2 separate regions of the Homo sapiens genome follow, and region 1 is linked to region 2. Evidence: fine-mapped expression QTL. A gene starts in region 2. The other region holds a variant in brackets. All regions are shown on one strand. Distances are between the middles of the regions. Region 1 overlaps PYROXD1 (pyridine nucleotide-disulphide oxidoreductase domain 1). Region 2 holds the start of PYROXD1 (pyridine nucleotide-disulphide oxidoreductase domain 1).

Region 1 (8,000 bases), 26 kb after region 2:
CCCACACACATTTGGTCACAGAAGTATTCTGTGTTGTGAGACTATAGTAGGAGAAACTGAGTTTGTTTTTTCCTATATCCTCAGATCAGGGATAGAGCTTTCTATACCCAGACTACAGTGAATACTCCTGTCCTATTTTAAATTAATCTTTTCTCAAAGGTCACTTCAGATGCATGCAGTAAACTTACAAAAGTTATTAGATGGATTGGAAATACACACTTAATACCCTAATTGGATAAGGAGATGATTTGCTTTTCCTCATTTTGTTAGATATTTTGATTTTTTAATAGTTGTTAAAGGGCTGTGAAATCTAAATGCTGTAAGAAGCATGCATGCAGTCCTTCGTTACTTTGTGTGATTTCTTTAGAGCATTGGTTTTTGGCTTTCAGTAGGTAGGAGGGGAGCTGGCTGCACGGTGTATCTAATTTTTGTGATGGAAATTACACAAAGTCCCTTCTTCTTGCACCTTCAGATCCTAATATTATATTTTTAACCTGAGAACTTCAACAGTTTAATTCAATAAGCATTTATTGAGTATTTACTACCTACGTGGGACTTTATTAATGTTCAGGGATACGACAGTAAGTCAGAACTGACCTGAAGAAAATTTTATAGTCCATAACTGTTGTCATTTTTTAAATTTTTATTTATTTATTTATTTATTTATTTTATTTATTTATTTTTTTTGAGACAGAGTCTCGCTCTGTCACCCAAGCTGGAGTGCTGTGGTATGATCTTGGCTCGCTGCAACCTCTGCCTCCCGGGTTCAAGCGAGTCTCCTGCCTCAGCCTCCCGAGTAGCTGGGACTACAGGCGCACACCACCAGGCCTGGCTAATTTTTTAATTTTAGTAGAGACAGGGTTTCACCATATAGGCCAGGCTAGTCTTGAACTCCTGACCTCAGGTGATCCACCTGCGCCTCGGCCTCCCAGAGTGCTGGGATTACAGGCGTGAGCCACTGTGCCCAACAACTACTGTAATTTTTAAAAAATGCATTTGTAATTATCAATGAGGCCTAGGCTAAAAAGCATTCCCTCGATGCTATCTGCTAATGCAGCTACCAGATCTCTTAAGTTACTGAATGAATTTTTGTTCACTCCTTTCATGTGCATAGAGAGACTTATTTTAGGGCACCCAATGTGGTTTCATTTATATTATAAGAATTATGTTTTCTATACATTTCTACAAGTATACGTTTTTTCTTCATCATTAGTAACCCGGGTTATTCTTTCTGTAAGTATTATGCTAACCAGTATTTTCTTAATTTTAGTTTTCTCATAAGATTCACCTTGAAACTATGTGTGAAGTAAAGAAAATCTACCTTCAGGATGAGTTTAGAATTTTGAAGAAAAAGTCCTTCACTTTTCCAAGAGACCATAAGTCAGTTACAGCTGATACAGGCAAGTAATGAAATAAGAAAAAATATATATAACCACTTAATTAAAAGGAAAACAATTTAATCCTGCTGTGTTCTATTAAAAATAACTTCGTATTTCCATATAAAATTTAAACATGAAAAGTAAAAATAAAACCATAATTTAATAACATTAACTCACTTCATTTCACTGTCTGTTGTTTTCTAGTAAATTAAATCGTATAGGGCATTACATCTTACATAGAGCTGAGTGTTTTGACCAACAATCAGAATATATTATAAATCAAAATAAGACAAAAACCTAGAGCTCTTAAAGGTGACATGATTTCACCCAAATCAGATTGAAAATGTATATTTTTGGGACTAAGATGCAGCTCTCCTAACTCCAGTTCCACAACTCCTCTGAGAATTGCCATGATTTGAAGAAATACACTCAGTTAACTAGCATATGAAATATTCTACTGTTCTGAATTCTTTGAATTTTTCCATAGGAAAGGGGAATTTGAATATGAGTAGTGAGGGAAGACACCTAGTTGAACTAAACACTTAAGTGGAGTGTAAAGTATTACAAAAGATTTTTAGAGAAATAATTTAGAAATAATTTAAATGTACTTTGTCAAAATTTATGTGTCCAAATTTGAAGGAAAAACATTTAAAATGCCATGGTTTTAAAATTATACCCAAACGAGATGATGCTAATTGCATTAAAATTGCTTTAGCAAATATGCCTCATAATAATTGCTAAGGAGTGTGTTACAAAGTTATCTCTTGCCTTTCTTTTTCTTTCTTTGTTTCTAGTCATTGTAGTCACATACACTGCTGTGGTGATGGTTCCATTTACAAATAAAGTCTGTTTTTTTGGTTTTTTTTTCTTAAAGAGATGTGGCCTGTCTATGTGGAATTGACCAATGAAAAGATATATGGCTGCGATTTCATTGTCAGTGCTACAGGAGTTACACCAAATGTAGAACCTTTTCTCCATGGTAACAGTGTAAGGTGAAATTTTTTTGTCCAGCTGTGAATATATTTGAAGTATTTTTGTGAAGATCTCTAATTCTCAAACATGAATAATTATTATTTTAGTGTACAACTGTAACTTAACATGGTTGGAAACAGTTTGGTTAAAACATTGTCTTGATTTACAGTATTTTTTACTGCTTAAAATCCTTACATAGTTATATCCTTGCATAAGCGTCATCAGTAATGGTTTATAATGTACAATTTATTTATCTAAATGTTGGTAAGAGACTGACACCTCCCGTGACTTCTCAAAAATGATTCTTTTAGAGAAACCATCTTGTATTTTTTGCTTTTCAGCACTTGAAGCTTACAAAAAAAAAAAAAGAATATTCTTGTAGTTATGGATAAGGTAGTCACATGGTTATTGGATACTTTTCATGTTGAAATTCTGACAGTTTTATGGATCAGTCTTAGTTGGAATTTGATCCATGGAAATTCAGCTCAGGTGTCTAAACTTTGCTGATATTTTTCATTTTCTCATTAAAGATGAGCATGCAAAGTGTAACAATTTAATTTGTTCTTTTACTTTAAAATGGAAAAAGTCGTTTCATTTTTCTTAACACTTAACGCTTATGAGGAATGTTGTTTAGTTTGATCTAGGAGAAGATGGTGGCCTGAAAGTGGATGATCATATGCACACATCCCTTCCTGATATCTATGCTGCCGGTGACATCTGTACTACATCCTGGCAGCTGAGCCCAGTCTGGCAGCAGGTAAGCTAGCATATATAATTATATGTTTTCATCAGAGATTCTGTCTGAAAATAAAGCGGTTGTTACCAACAAATCCAACTTCTGGTTTTCCAACTTTTCTGCTTAAGTAGGAAGCTAGCACAGTTGTTATATATATTTAAAAAAAAAACTAGAATATTTCCCTGTTTGGTAAGTTATCATTATAATGGTAGACTGAGACATCTTTTACTTTAAAAGAAATTATGGGCTATTACTTTGTTTTTCATTCTTACCTGCTTATCAGCACTGTCCAGGAGAACTTTCTGTGATGATGGAAATGTTTAATTCCTCACCATCTAGTCAGGTAGCCAGCAGTATGTCACATGAGCACTTGAAATGTGGTTAATGTGACTGAGGAACTGAATTATTTTTACTTACTTCTCATTAACTTTAAATATATGTGGCTACGATGTTGGACAGCACAACTTTAGATTAAAAAAACTACTAAGATTGTAAATTATATAGAAAAGCATTCTATTCCTTTATGATCCTATTCTGTCCCTGTGGTAATCATTACTAAAAAATGTTCTGGGCGCAGTGGCTCACGCCTGTAATCCCAGCACTTTGGGAGGGTGAGAGGCAGGTGTATCATCTGAAGTTAGGAGTTTGAGACCAGCCTGAACAACATGATGAAACCCCGTCTTTACTAAAAATACAAAAAATTAGCTGAGCATGATGGTGTGCGTCTGTAATCCCAGCTATTCAGGAGGCTGAGGCACAAGAATCCCTTGAACCTGGGAGGCGGAGGTTGCAGTGAGCTGAGATCGCACCACTGCACCCCAGCCTGGGCAACAAGAGCAAAACTCTGTCTCAAAAAAAAAAAAAAAAATTCCTGTAGTAAACACCTTTCCTGAGCCTTAACAAGTCCCAACTGGATCTAGACTTTTTCCTACCCTCACAGCTTTACCTACCTCCTCCTAACGGTGGAACAAAAATACTAGAGGAAGATAAAGACAGTGACCAGAGGTGTGCAGAGGGGTAGAGACCTAGGTAGATGTTTGAAATAAAGGAACCAGGCAACATTTATCTTTGTTAAAGACCAGCTCCACAGTTAGGGACATTATTCATTCAGATTATGCAGTGTGAAGTAGGAGAAGAGCTAAAAGTATTTCAAGAGGCAGCACCATCATTTTGTGTTCTTACAGACAGTAGAGACATCAGTAAGAATGGTTCCAGCCTTTTTGTTTCTAACCTGCCTCATTCTATGTCATTTCTGTGGCAAGACTATCACAAATTCTTAGAGTTGGAGTTTATGG[G/GT]TTTTTTTTTTTTTAACATTTTTAATTCTCTAGGGTAAATTATATCTTAATGTGTTATAATCTGAAAGAGGGGAAAAAATCCGAAAATAAACAGATGGCCTTGTTTTGAGTGCACCTTATAGGCCCCATTTCTTGGCTTACACAAGCAATAAGGATACTAATTTATGCAGTTCAAGATGCAAATTTTCCGGCCACTTGTATTAGCTGTTCTCTAGTTGTTACTGTGCTCAGTTTATTCTGACCCCCAGCCATAAACTGCCTTTCACTTCATCAAATCTATAATACCTTGTTTACAGAGGAGATTGAAAAAAAAAAATCTATCACTTCTGCTAGAAATGCTTAAAACTCATGTCTATGATTATGATATTATTTCTGCAAACAAAAGACAGCATTAAGTACATATGCACATACAGGGAGGTAGAAGGAAACCAAGTGCTTATTATACGCTAACCTGTTTAATTCTCTCAATAGTTACAGAGTAGGTAGTGTTATGTTTACGTTTCAGGTAAATGAACCGAGGCCCAGAAAAGTTAAATATATATGTAGATCTGTTGATATTAAAATCCACTGTGACTCCCAAGGTCAGTGTTTTTTTTTTTTATTATTATATTTAAGTTTTAGGATACATGTACACAACGTGCAAGTTTGTTACATATGTATACATGTGCCATGTTGGTGTGCTGCACCCCCACCCCACAAGAGTCCCCGGTGTGTGATGTTCCCCTTCCTGTGTCCATGTGTTCTCATTGTTCAGTTCCCACCTATGAGTGAGAACATGTGGTGTTTGGTTTTTTGTCCTTGCAATAGTTTGCTGAGAATAATGGTTTCCAGCTTCATCCATGTCCCTACAAAGGACATGAACTCATCATTTTTTATGGCTGCATAGTATTCCATGGTGTATATGTGCCACATTTTCTTAATCCAGTCTATCATTGTTGGACATTTGGGTTGGTTCCAAGTCTTTGCTATTGTGAATAGTGCCGCTATAAACATACGTGTGCATGTGTCTTTATAGCAGCATGATTTATAATCCTTTGGGTATATACGCAGTACTGGGATGGCTGAGTCAAATGGTATTTCTAGTTCTAGATCCCTGAGGAATCGCCACACCAACTTCCACAATGGTTGAACTAGTTTACAGTCCCACCAACAGTGTAAAAGTGTTCCTATTTCTCCACATCCTCTCCAGCACATGTTGTTTCCTGACTTTTTAATGATTGCCATTCTAACTGGTGTGAGATGGTATCTCACTGTGGTTTTGATTTGCATTTCTCTGATGGCCAGTGATGATGAGCATTTTTTCATTTGTCTTTTGGCTGCATAAATATCTTCTTTTGAGAAGTGTCTGTTCATATCCTTCGCCGACTTTTTGATGGGGTTGTTTTTTTTTTGTAAATTTGTTTGAGTTCATTGTAGATTCTGGATATTAGCCATTTGTCGGACGAGTAGGTTGCAAAAATTTTCTCCCATTCTGTAGGTTGCCTGTTCACTCTGATGGTGGTTTCTTTTACTGTGCAGAAGCTCTTTAGTGTAATTAGATCCCATTTGTTAATTTTGACTTTTGTTGCCATTGCTTTTGGTGTTTTAGACATGAAGTCCTTGCCCATGCCTATGTCCTGAATGGTATTGCCTAGGTTTTCTTCTAGGGTTTTTATGGTTTTAGGTCTAACATGTAAGTCTTTAATCCATCTTGAATTAATTTTTGTATAAGGTGTAAGGAAGGGATCCCGTTTCAGCTTTCTACATATGGCTAGCCAGTTTTCCCAGCACCATTTATTAAATAGGGAATCCCTTCCCCATTTCTTCTTTTTGTCAGGTTTGTGAAAGATCAGATAGTTGTAGATATGAGGCATTATTTCTGAGGGTTCTGTTCTGCTCGATTGGTCTATATCTCTGTTTTGGTACCAGTACCATGCTGTTTTGGTTACTGTAGCCTTGTAGTACAGTTTGAAGTCAGGTAGCGTGATGCCTCCAGCTTTGTTCTTTTGGCTTAGGATTGACTTGGCGATGCGGGCTCTTTTTTGGTTCCATATGAACTTTAAAGTAGTTTTTTCCAATTCTGTGAAGAAAGTCATTGGTAGCTTGATGGGGATGGCATTGAATCTATAAATTACCTTGGGCAGTATGGCCATTTTCACGATATTGATTCTTCCTACCCATGAGCATGGAATGTTCTTCCATTTGTTTGTATCCTCTTTTATTTCATTGAGCAGTGGTTTGTAGTTCTCCTTGAAGAGGTCCTTCACATCCCTTGTAAGTTGGATTCCTAGGTATTTTATTCTCTTTGAAGCAATTGTGAATGGGAATTCACTCATGATTTGGCTCTGTTTGTCTGTTGTTGGTGTATAAGAATGCTTGTGATTTTTGCACATTGATTTTGTATCCTGAGACTTTGCTGAAGTTGCTTATCAGCTTAAGATTTTGGGCTGAGCTGATGGGGTTTTCTAGATATACAATCATGTCATCTGCAAACAGGGACAATTTGACTTCCTCTTTTCCTAATTGAATGCCCTTTATTCCCTTCTCCTGCCTGATTGCCCTGGCCAGAACTTCCAACACTATGTTGAATAGGAGTGGTGAGAGAGGGCATCCCTGTCTTATGCCAGTTTTCAAAGGGAATGCTTCCAGTTTTTGTTCATTCAGTATGATATTGGCTGTGGGTTTGTCATAGATCTTATTATTTTGAGATACGTCCCATCAATACCTTATTGAGAGTTTTTAGCATGAAGGGTTGTTGAATTTTGTCAAAGGCCGTGTTCTTTTATACCAGGGAGTCTCAAAACTTCATAGAAATAAAATAAAAATACAATAGATGAATTAATACGGTCATGCAAAACAATTTAAATGACTTCCCAGAATCAGTTGCTGAGATATTTATGTTGTCTTGGTGAGGCACCAAGAGTCTGTCTAACCACTGAGGTTAACAGCACAGCAGACCTTAAGTAGTGCATAAAAATGAAGGTTGCTGGAAAATAGAACAAATTCTTCAGTGATAATTTGACATCTCTGTTAATGGTGATGACAAATTTTTGAAGAAGGGACTGGTTAATTAAAACATTTTTCTCACCTGGTATAGCTTAATATAGTTTCATAATATTTAATAGAAATGCTACTAAAACAGGTGTGATTGGTATCATCTTTTAATTTTAGAGGCAGTAATTTAGATAGAATTAACAAATACCAAAAATCAGTCTGATTAGTTATCCATTGGTGACTGCTTCTGTGGCAAAGATGACAGAAAGACTGTCAAACATTGAACTCCTTTAAGTGAATTTACAAGGTTAACATTTTTCAGATAATGATCATGAAAAATGACATTGTGTAACATTTTTTCATCATTTCAGATGAGGCTGTGGACCCAGGCTAGACAGATGGGATGGTATGCAGCAAAGTGCATGGCTGCAGCGAGTTCAGGAGACTCTATTGACATGGATTTCAGCTTTGAACTGTTTGCTCATGTGACAAAATTTTTTAACTATAAGGTAAGATAGTTAAGCATATTAATGCCTTCTCTGCTTGTTAGTCTTATGACTATGATAAATCATGTGATTTTCTTGCTTGAATAAAAACGTACATAGTTTTAATCATCTACAAAAAAATGACATTTTTCATTTCTTA
Region 2 (8,457 bases):
GAAGACAGCCTGCGGTATGGCAAGAATGACACCACGGCCATGATGACTGATGTTGGATTCCTGCATACTAAGGTGTTCTGCAGCAAGGTCCTTAAACAATGCCCATAGCATAGATAACCCTTCAAAAGAAACAAAGCTTGTAACTTAGATAATTCTCTCATTAAGATTCTTATCTAGACTCCCCAGTGTTCATGAGTTTTGCAAGAAAGTCTGAGACATGATCAGCTGTACATCTTTTATCCTAAAAGCTTACATAATTTCTGGAGGGCAGGTGTGGGGATGCACTGTAACAGAATCATCATTTCTGTGTGTAAGTCCCTATTAAATACCTCTTTCTGAGAAACTGGATTTGTCAGTTTTTCTTTGGCCTCTCAGCTCTCTCAGCCTTTGGGGGTAGGTTTGCATATATATGCTCATACAGGAACAACAGTGAGGCTCTTTCCTCTCCTTACTCCTTACCCACCCTCCAATCTTAAAGCCCCTGAAAACATCAGCTCTTAGTTAGGAGAAGAGCTGGAGCAAAAAAGCAACAAGAAATCAATTTGCGTTGCCTGTAGTTAGGTGAGGCTTTAATTGGATGCGTGTCTGGAGTTTTGATAATAGGTAGTACCAGACTTTTTATTACCTGAGAATGATCAGATAAGCTAAATTAATAAGAATTTAGAGGAGAAAAATACATTCACAGGAAAAGCGTTGAGAAATAAAAATGTTTGCTTTAATTTCTTCCCTATAAAGTCCAGCTTGTTCAGTAAATCAGTTATATGAACTAACAAAACAAAGAAGAGGTTTCGAGTGCAAGATGAATCCAGGCTGTACTTACAGCGAATTGGCAAAAACCAAGATAAAAATGAGAAGATATCCAAGATGTTTCAGAAATTTCAGGCTTGAAGATTCAGAGTAGATTGCATGAGAGATAGACATTTGGGAGTTAAAAGCATAATAGGCTTGTTAAGGTTATGATCATAGATAAAATCCTTTAGACAGAGAAACATAGTCTATTCAACAGGGCACAGGCAGGCAACTTAACCATTAATCCTACTAAGAGGCACGCACTATGCTAGGAAGTTTAAATATGTTGCCTCACACATGCATCAAAACAACTCTACAAAGTAGATCTTATACCCGTCTTGCCAATGAGGAAACTAGGGTTCAGATGAGGTAAATAACTCACTGAATGGTCACACAACAAAGAAATGCTGGTGCCACATTTGAACCTAGGTCATCTGACTCAAAAGCTATTAATCACCAACTATGAAATGTCATTATTCATTCCCAATTTTTGCAGTTGAAAATTAACCTCAATACTCCTATTCTAGGCATTTCTGATATCAACTTGAAGAAGAATGGAAGACTAGATTTTGATGGTAGTTTGAAAGTTGGGGATGGCCTTCAAGAGATTAGGTGGGTATGGGAATCAGATGTAACAACATTATGGAGAGAAATAGAAGAAGATAGCTTTATCTCCTTCAGTTTTTCCACATGAATCTTGAACTCCCCAACCACTTTTCTTTCTTTCTTCCCTTTTACCATCTCCTGTATTTCCCATGCTCATTCCTGCTGCTAAGCCTTTGGTTCTTGGGATATTTCCCACATGACTTGCCACATCTTCTTCTGAACCTATCCAAATGCTATGGGCCTTTGAGATTCAATATAAATTCCACTTCTTCTCTGAACCTTTCTTTGCCAAGTCCTGCTTTTCTTTTCCACCCATAAACATACACCATAATATTTAGCAATACACTGGTATTTCTTTGACTCCTCAGAAACAGTCACCAGGTCACTCCTAAGCTTGCTGACCAGAGCTAAAGGGGAGCTGAAGTTCTGTCTTTTCTGCTTCTCTGCTGCTTCCTGGCATTGGGCCTCCCTTATTTCTAGGTGCCCAGTTTTCTTTGCAGTTGCCCTTTCTCCTAACCTGTACCTATTGCTGCCCTCCCTGTGGATAACATGTTTCAAGTTACCTACATCTTACTTTTAACCCACTTTACATCCAGTATATGTATCTAATTTAATCAACATTAAGGTGAGATGCACTGAAAGTTCTTTAACCCTTAGACATTTCTAAAAGTTGGATATTCATGCCAGTGTGGCAGGCAGCTAGGTCTTATCCCTACATCACCTTTGACAAAAAAGCCAGCCTTCACAAGGGGAAGAAAAAAGGAGAGTGTGGAGTCATTACCCCTTTACATTTGAGGAGCCTCCTACTACTTTGCTTCCCCTCCCACAGACGATGATCTCCTTCCGTTTCCCCTGGGAGCTTAAATTCCACTCCATTCTTCCTTCCGACTTCCATAAAGAGGAAACCCCTGTCACAATATACAAGAGGATCCTGACCCTGGACAATGAATCTAAAAATCTTTAGAAGGACTTCAGGGGAGTTTCATGCTCCACCAACTTCCTATTTCGTTGAGCACATTTTTGTTGAATACATACTCCCTACTAAACATTGGAGATACAAAGGGAGACAAAAATAATCCCTGAGATTATGTAAGCAGTTTATGGTGGTGGTGGGGTCAGGCAGTAAGAATTTACAATAAAGTGGGATAAGTCTAAATTTAGAGGATGACAAAGTGCTATAAGAACACACGGAGAGGACACCTAGCTGTCTTGAGGATGTTAGATAAAGTATCTTAAAGGGGAAGCAATGGCTTGATGAAACCAAAGGTTGATGAGTTAGCCAGGGAAAAGTAGTTGGGAAAAAGATATGTGCAAATGCTCAGAAAGAAAATGGCATATCCTGGGATCTGGAAGTGTAGTGTGGCCTGAATGGAACACAGTGTGAGTGAGATAATGTGAAAATAAGCTGAAGCAAGATGAGATCTAAATGGGCTTAAGGAATGTATTTCCTCCTCCTAGAAATGAATGCTTTGTTTGGTTGCTATACTAGTAACAGGAATTAGACACGTTTATTAAACCGCTTACCATTTAACTTGGTAAATCAAAGAACAATGATTTTTACAGGTATCAGTAAATGCCTGTAATTAGATACGTGGTAGGCTTTCCTGTTAATATATAATGGTTATTCTCAGTGTTTAAAGAATTAAAGGGACTCGGGTAATTACCAGTTTTAGAGTGAACCATTTGAGAGATAATACCTTACCATTACAAAACAACTCCTAGGGAAAGTTATATGAGACAGCAAAGGTAATAGTAAATAGTAAAATAATATGAATAGTGAATAATATAGTAAAAACAGTTAAAAATGATTTAGCAATTTCTTAAAAACAATTGACCACGAAAAAAATTCACAGTAAAACCGAGACTGGGAATATTTCATTCAACCCTCACACATGCTGCTATTGACTGGAAATTTAAGAAATGTTCATTTGTTTTGACAAAATGGAAAGCAACTGTACATTCTTCCTGGAAACTTTAGCTGAGGTCAAAGTTGTAAATGAAAAGGATGATTTTTTAGAGAACAATTCAGTAGTATTGTTTTGCCTTGTCATGAAGAATTTTTGTGCTTCCACAAACAAAAATCTTGGATTGTTAGGTGAACGGTGGCAATCAAGTGGTTTTCAGAAGACTCAAGTTTCTTCATCTACAAAAATGACAGGAGTGGGGTCAGGATGTTCCCGAAGGCTCCTTCTACTCATAAGAGCATAAAATCTGTGCCTCTAATTTCTCGCAGAAACAAATAATGAGAACTTCACACCAATTCATTTATTATATGAATGTTTTGTCCCGTGAGAACACTGGTCTATCTTTAGATATGTAATTTATCAAACTTCTTTGGGCAACCCATCTTCTTTACTTTTTTATTTTTAATTTTTTGGTTTTCTCTTTGTCAAATTTTCATGGAATAACTACATTCAGGTGTAGTAATAGTAACGCAAAGCTCTGAACACCACGAGACAATTCGTTGCTTCCGAAACGCAGCCGGCAGCAGGTACTCGAGATGAGTAGTGTGAGCTCCCGAGCACCCGTAGGTCGGATTATCTGGTAAGGCACCGGAAGTGACCGCCTCGCGGCTGCTTCCTCTCCTGGAGTCCAGAGTCCCGTTGCTCCGCCGCGATATTCAGTAAACCACTGGGAGTCCGGCAGCATGGAGGCAGCGCGCCCTCCCCCGACGGCAGGGAAGTTCGTGGTGGTCGGCGGCGGCATCGCGGGCGTCACTTGTGCGGAGCAGGTAGGGCGGTGCTCAGGCGGTTCCGCCTCTTTCCCCGACCCCAAAGGGGATAGCACTGGAGGCCTTCCTCCCACCCCCTCCCTTTTTCTTCTTCCGGGTTCCTTTTTTGCTGCGCCCTTTTCCGCACTTATTGCTCCCAGATTTTAGAAACTGCTTGGTGGTCCTCAGATGACCTCACTAGCTTTCTCTTAGGCGCAGGGAGGAGTGGGAGGCAAATTATAGCCGAGAAACCAAAGCTGGCTGATCCGTGCTCAGATCCTTGTAATGTCAGAGCAGACATGAGGACTTTGTATTTAGACAAAAAATTCAGCCCCCTTTCTTTTTATTTTTTTTTCTTTTTCTTTGAGACGGAGTCTCACTCTGTCGCCCAGACTGGAGGGCAGTGGTGCGATCTTGGCTTAATGCAAGCTTTGCCTCCCGGGTTCAAGCGATTCTTCTGTTGCGTCAGCCTGTAGCTGGGATTACAGGCGCCAGCCACCACGCCCCGCTAATGTTTGTATTTTTAGTAGAGACGGGCTTTCACCATGTTGGCCAGGCTGGTCTCGAACTCCTGGGCTCAAGCAGTCTGCCCGCTTCCGCCTACCGAAGTGCTGGCATTACAGGCCTGAGCCACAGCACCCGGCCCTCAGCCCCCTTTGTTAATTATCGTAGGTGATTGAGTTTAGTTTCCAGATAGTTGCCAAGTCTTTAGTGCATCTTAACTAATTAATAAAGAATCCCATATGTAAGTTTTCTATACTTCGAACTCCCAAGATAGAAGAAACTTTATTTCTAGTAAAGTTTTGTAAAATAATCAGCGAAGGATTAAATGCATGTAGGGCTTGCTTTCTTGATTATACTGAATAGCCAGACCATATATATTCAGATACATGTGTGTATTCCAAAAAGTTCTACATTATTTTGTTGATATAAAGTAAACATGAGCAATCACTGAAGTCATAAGAAATAGTGGAAGAAACTCAAGTGTTTCCATCGTTGGATGCGTATTTTCCGTTTATTCACTAAGTAAACATATATGATGCAGGCACCGTATTAAGGGCTGAGTGTTCAACTATGAACAGCATGGTATATACCATGCTGGGGACTCACAGCCTGCTGGAAGAGACAATATTACAATATTGTATGTCTATGCAAGAGATATCAACGGTTATCTTAGAGGTGCCTGTGGAGTATGTAGGGAGTGAATTAGGGAAGAGGAAATTTTTTTAATCAAAGAAGGTATTTTTAAAATCTCATTATGAAAGAATGAGTGAAAGTTTACCAAGTATTCAAGAAAAGAATGTCATCTCCAGTGGAAAAGCATGGATCATCAGGGAGCAGTAAAGCTTAAAGCATAGATCATAAGGAGTCTTAGCATGCTGAGAACTTAACAAGAATTTACAAGTAGTCAAATGTTTTTGAGCAGTGGAGTAACTTGATCATATGAAAAGGCTTGAAAGATGATTAGTTACAATGTATTTGTGGCAGAGGCAGCTGGTTTATACGTGAAACTGGAGAGCCAATTCGAAGGTGATTTCAGTAGTATAAAGAAGTTTTGAGGACCTCATCTAGCAATGGAAACAGCAGAGATATAAATTACAGAATATACAGAGGAAAGAAAGATGGAGAGAGTAATGATATTGTCAAATATAGAAAGTTCAAATAAAATGAGACTGAGAAGAATCGCATGGGTGTTGGGCACGATAGCTCACACTTGTAATCTTAGAACTTTGGGAGGCCAAGGTGGGAGGATTGCATGAGTCCAGGAGTTTGAAGCCAGACTGGGCAACATGGCAAGATCCCATCTCCATTAAAAAAAAAATAAATAATCCCTTGGATTTTAAGGATTCATAGATCCCTCAAACATGCTGTTTTAGTGATGGAGTAGGAATAGAAGCCAGATTATTGAGGGTGGTGGTGTCGAGGAACCAGACTTTGAGATAAGAAAATGCTTTCAGGTACAGAGTGAAGAAGACCGAGGTTGTAGCTAAAGGAAAATAATGAAACATTAACAAGTTATACCTCTAAATTTTGTGGAAGCAATTATTAAAATGGCTTTATCGTCCCACAATATGTACTGACTGGAAGAGGCAGAATAGGAGTGCCAGAGCACCTGGGGAAAGTTAGACCAATATTCTAAGTGTTTAATATTGAGGGTTTGCTTTAATTTCATCCCATTGAAGACAAATGAAATATTATTTTAAGATAAATAGAAGTTGGTTTAACTGGTAATTAGGAAGATAGTTTATTCTCATCCTCTGCATTATAACTCTAAATTGGTATAAAAAATAGTTGAAGTAAATAAAGGATATTTCTTTATATCACTTTTCTTGTTCAGGAGTTCTTTGTTAGTGTTTACTGTAAATATTATTTTCTCAGTATCAGAGTTTAATATTATTCACCATTGCCCCATCAAGACCAAGGATAATGGAGACCTTTAGATGAGGAACAGTGGGTTTTTAATTTTCTAGATTAATTACATTATTAAAATTGCATTATTCTCAACCCCAAACCATATATACCAGTACTTAAAGTAATTTGTCCTAATTTTTTTTCTCTCTTTTTAAAAATAAGTTGGCTACTCACTTTCCATCGGAAGATATTCTCTTGGTAACAGCTTCTCCTGTTATTAAAGCAGTTACAAATTTCAAGCAGGTAAGAACCTTTGTATAACTTGTTAATATTAATTTGAAAAAATTGCAATAACTTGCATAGCAGTTAGGGTAATTGTGTATTTTTTTCTTTCTTAAAAATTGACAAGTACAGTTATATGCTGTACAACATGATGTTTTGATACATGTATACATTGTGGAATGGCTAAGTCAAGCTATTTAAAATCTTTCCAATTTGGATGCCTTTTATTTCTTTCTGTCACCTAATTTAATTGCTCTAGCTAGGACTTTAGTACTGTGTTGAATAGAAGTTGTGAGAGTGGGCATCCTTGTGTTGTTCTTGATCTTGGAAAAGCTTTCAGCTTTTCTCCATTCAATATATTATTAGCTATAGGCTTGTATATGACCATTTTTTTGTTGTGGTACTTTCCTTCCATACCTAATTGTTGGGTTTTTATTATGAAAAGACGTTTAATTTTGTTGAATATTTTTTCTATATCTGTAGAGATGGTCATGATTTTTGTCCTTTGTTCTGTTAATGTGGTATATCACATTTACCGATTTGCATATTTTAAGCCATCTTTGCATCCCTGAATAAATCCCACTTGATTATGGTGAATTGATTGCTTTTTTTTGAGATGGAGTCTCACCCTGTTGCCCAGACTGGAGTGCAGTGGCACGATCTTGGCTCACTGCAAGCTCCGCCTCCTGGGTTCACGCCATTCTCCTGCCTCAGCCTCCCAAGTAGCTAGGACTACAGGCGCCCGCAACCATGCCCAGCTAATTTTTTGTATTTTTTAGTAGAGACGGGGTTTCACCATATTGGCCAGGCTGGTCTGGAACTCCTGACCTCGTGATCCATCCACCTCGGCCTCCCAAATTGCTGGGATTACAGGTGTGAGCCACCGCGCCCAGCCTGGAAAGTTTTCTGTTGTTATTTCTTTAAATACATGTTCTACTCCTTTGTCTTTCTTGTCTCCTTCTATAACGCCTATAATTCAAAGATTTGCTCATTTGATGCCATCCTTTAATTCCCTACTTCTATGTTCTTTTTCATTCTTTTTTCTTCTTCTTCCCTTCTGACTGTATATTTTCAAATAATCTGTCTTCAGATTCACAGATGTTTTCTTCTGTGTGATCAGTTCTCTTGTTGACATAGTCTGTTGCATTTTTTTTTGTTTCATTCATTGCATCTTTCATCGTCAGAATTTCTGCTTTAGTTTTTAAATAACTTTTTAAATTTTTTGTTTTGGTTGCTTATTGTTTTTCTGATTTAATTGAATTGTTTGTAACTTCTTGAAGTTCCTTCAGCTTCTTTAAACAATTATTTTGAATTCTTAGGCAGTTCTGACATTTGTGTTCTTTTGGTGGCATATCTTCTTGGTTTATCATGTTTCTTACTGCCTTATGTTGATGTTTGCACATTTGATGACACACTTGCTGTTTTCAGAAGTATGGGCTAGTTTTGCTGTGGAAAGACCTTCCCCTATGGGGAGGGCTGCTTGCTAGATGGGATGTAGCAGTTCTGGCACCAGTGAGGGTGCCCACTTTGTAGTCTGTGCAGCTCCGTCAGCTGAGTTAATTGTTGTTGAAGATTGCAGGGATCCTCAGCATCCAACTCTGGATGTCTGCAGTGGTAGTGAGGGTTGTTGGGGTTTTCAATGTCAATGGCTGCTAATAGCCTCCCAATCTTTTCTTCTCCCACAAAGGAAGTTGTGGCTTAGGGGATCCCTGTTGGCA

What was found.
Region 1: its variant is fine-mapped to the expression of PYROXD1 in whole blood (INTERVAL, PIP above 0.99).

What each region holds. Positions count from the first base shown.
Region 1 is chr12:21,459,755-21,467,754 of GRCh38, forward strand. PYROXD1 (pyridine nucleotide-disulphide oxidoreductase domain 1) reads left to right here. Exons shown (of 12, transcript NM_024854.5): 8 at 1,271-1,400; 9 at 2,254-2,366; 10 at 2,986-3,108; 11 at 7,727-7,864. Among named protein-coding and RNA genes, the nearest start is that of PYROXD1, 26 kb to the left of the region's middle. The variant G/GT (reference allele first, on the strand shown) is at 4,383.
Region 2 is chr12:21,433,689-21,442,145 of GRCh38, forward strand. It overlaps PYROXD1 (pyridine nucleotide-disulphide oxidoreductase domain 1), which reads left to right and starts at 3,967. Exons shown (of 12, transcript NM_024854.5): 1 at 3,967-4,126; 2 at 6,680-6,760. The coding sequence starts at 4,043. RefSeq lists enhancers at 3,796-3,875, 3,926-4,115.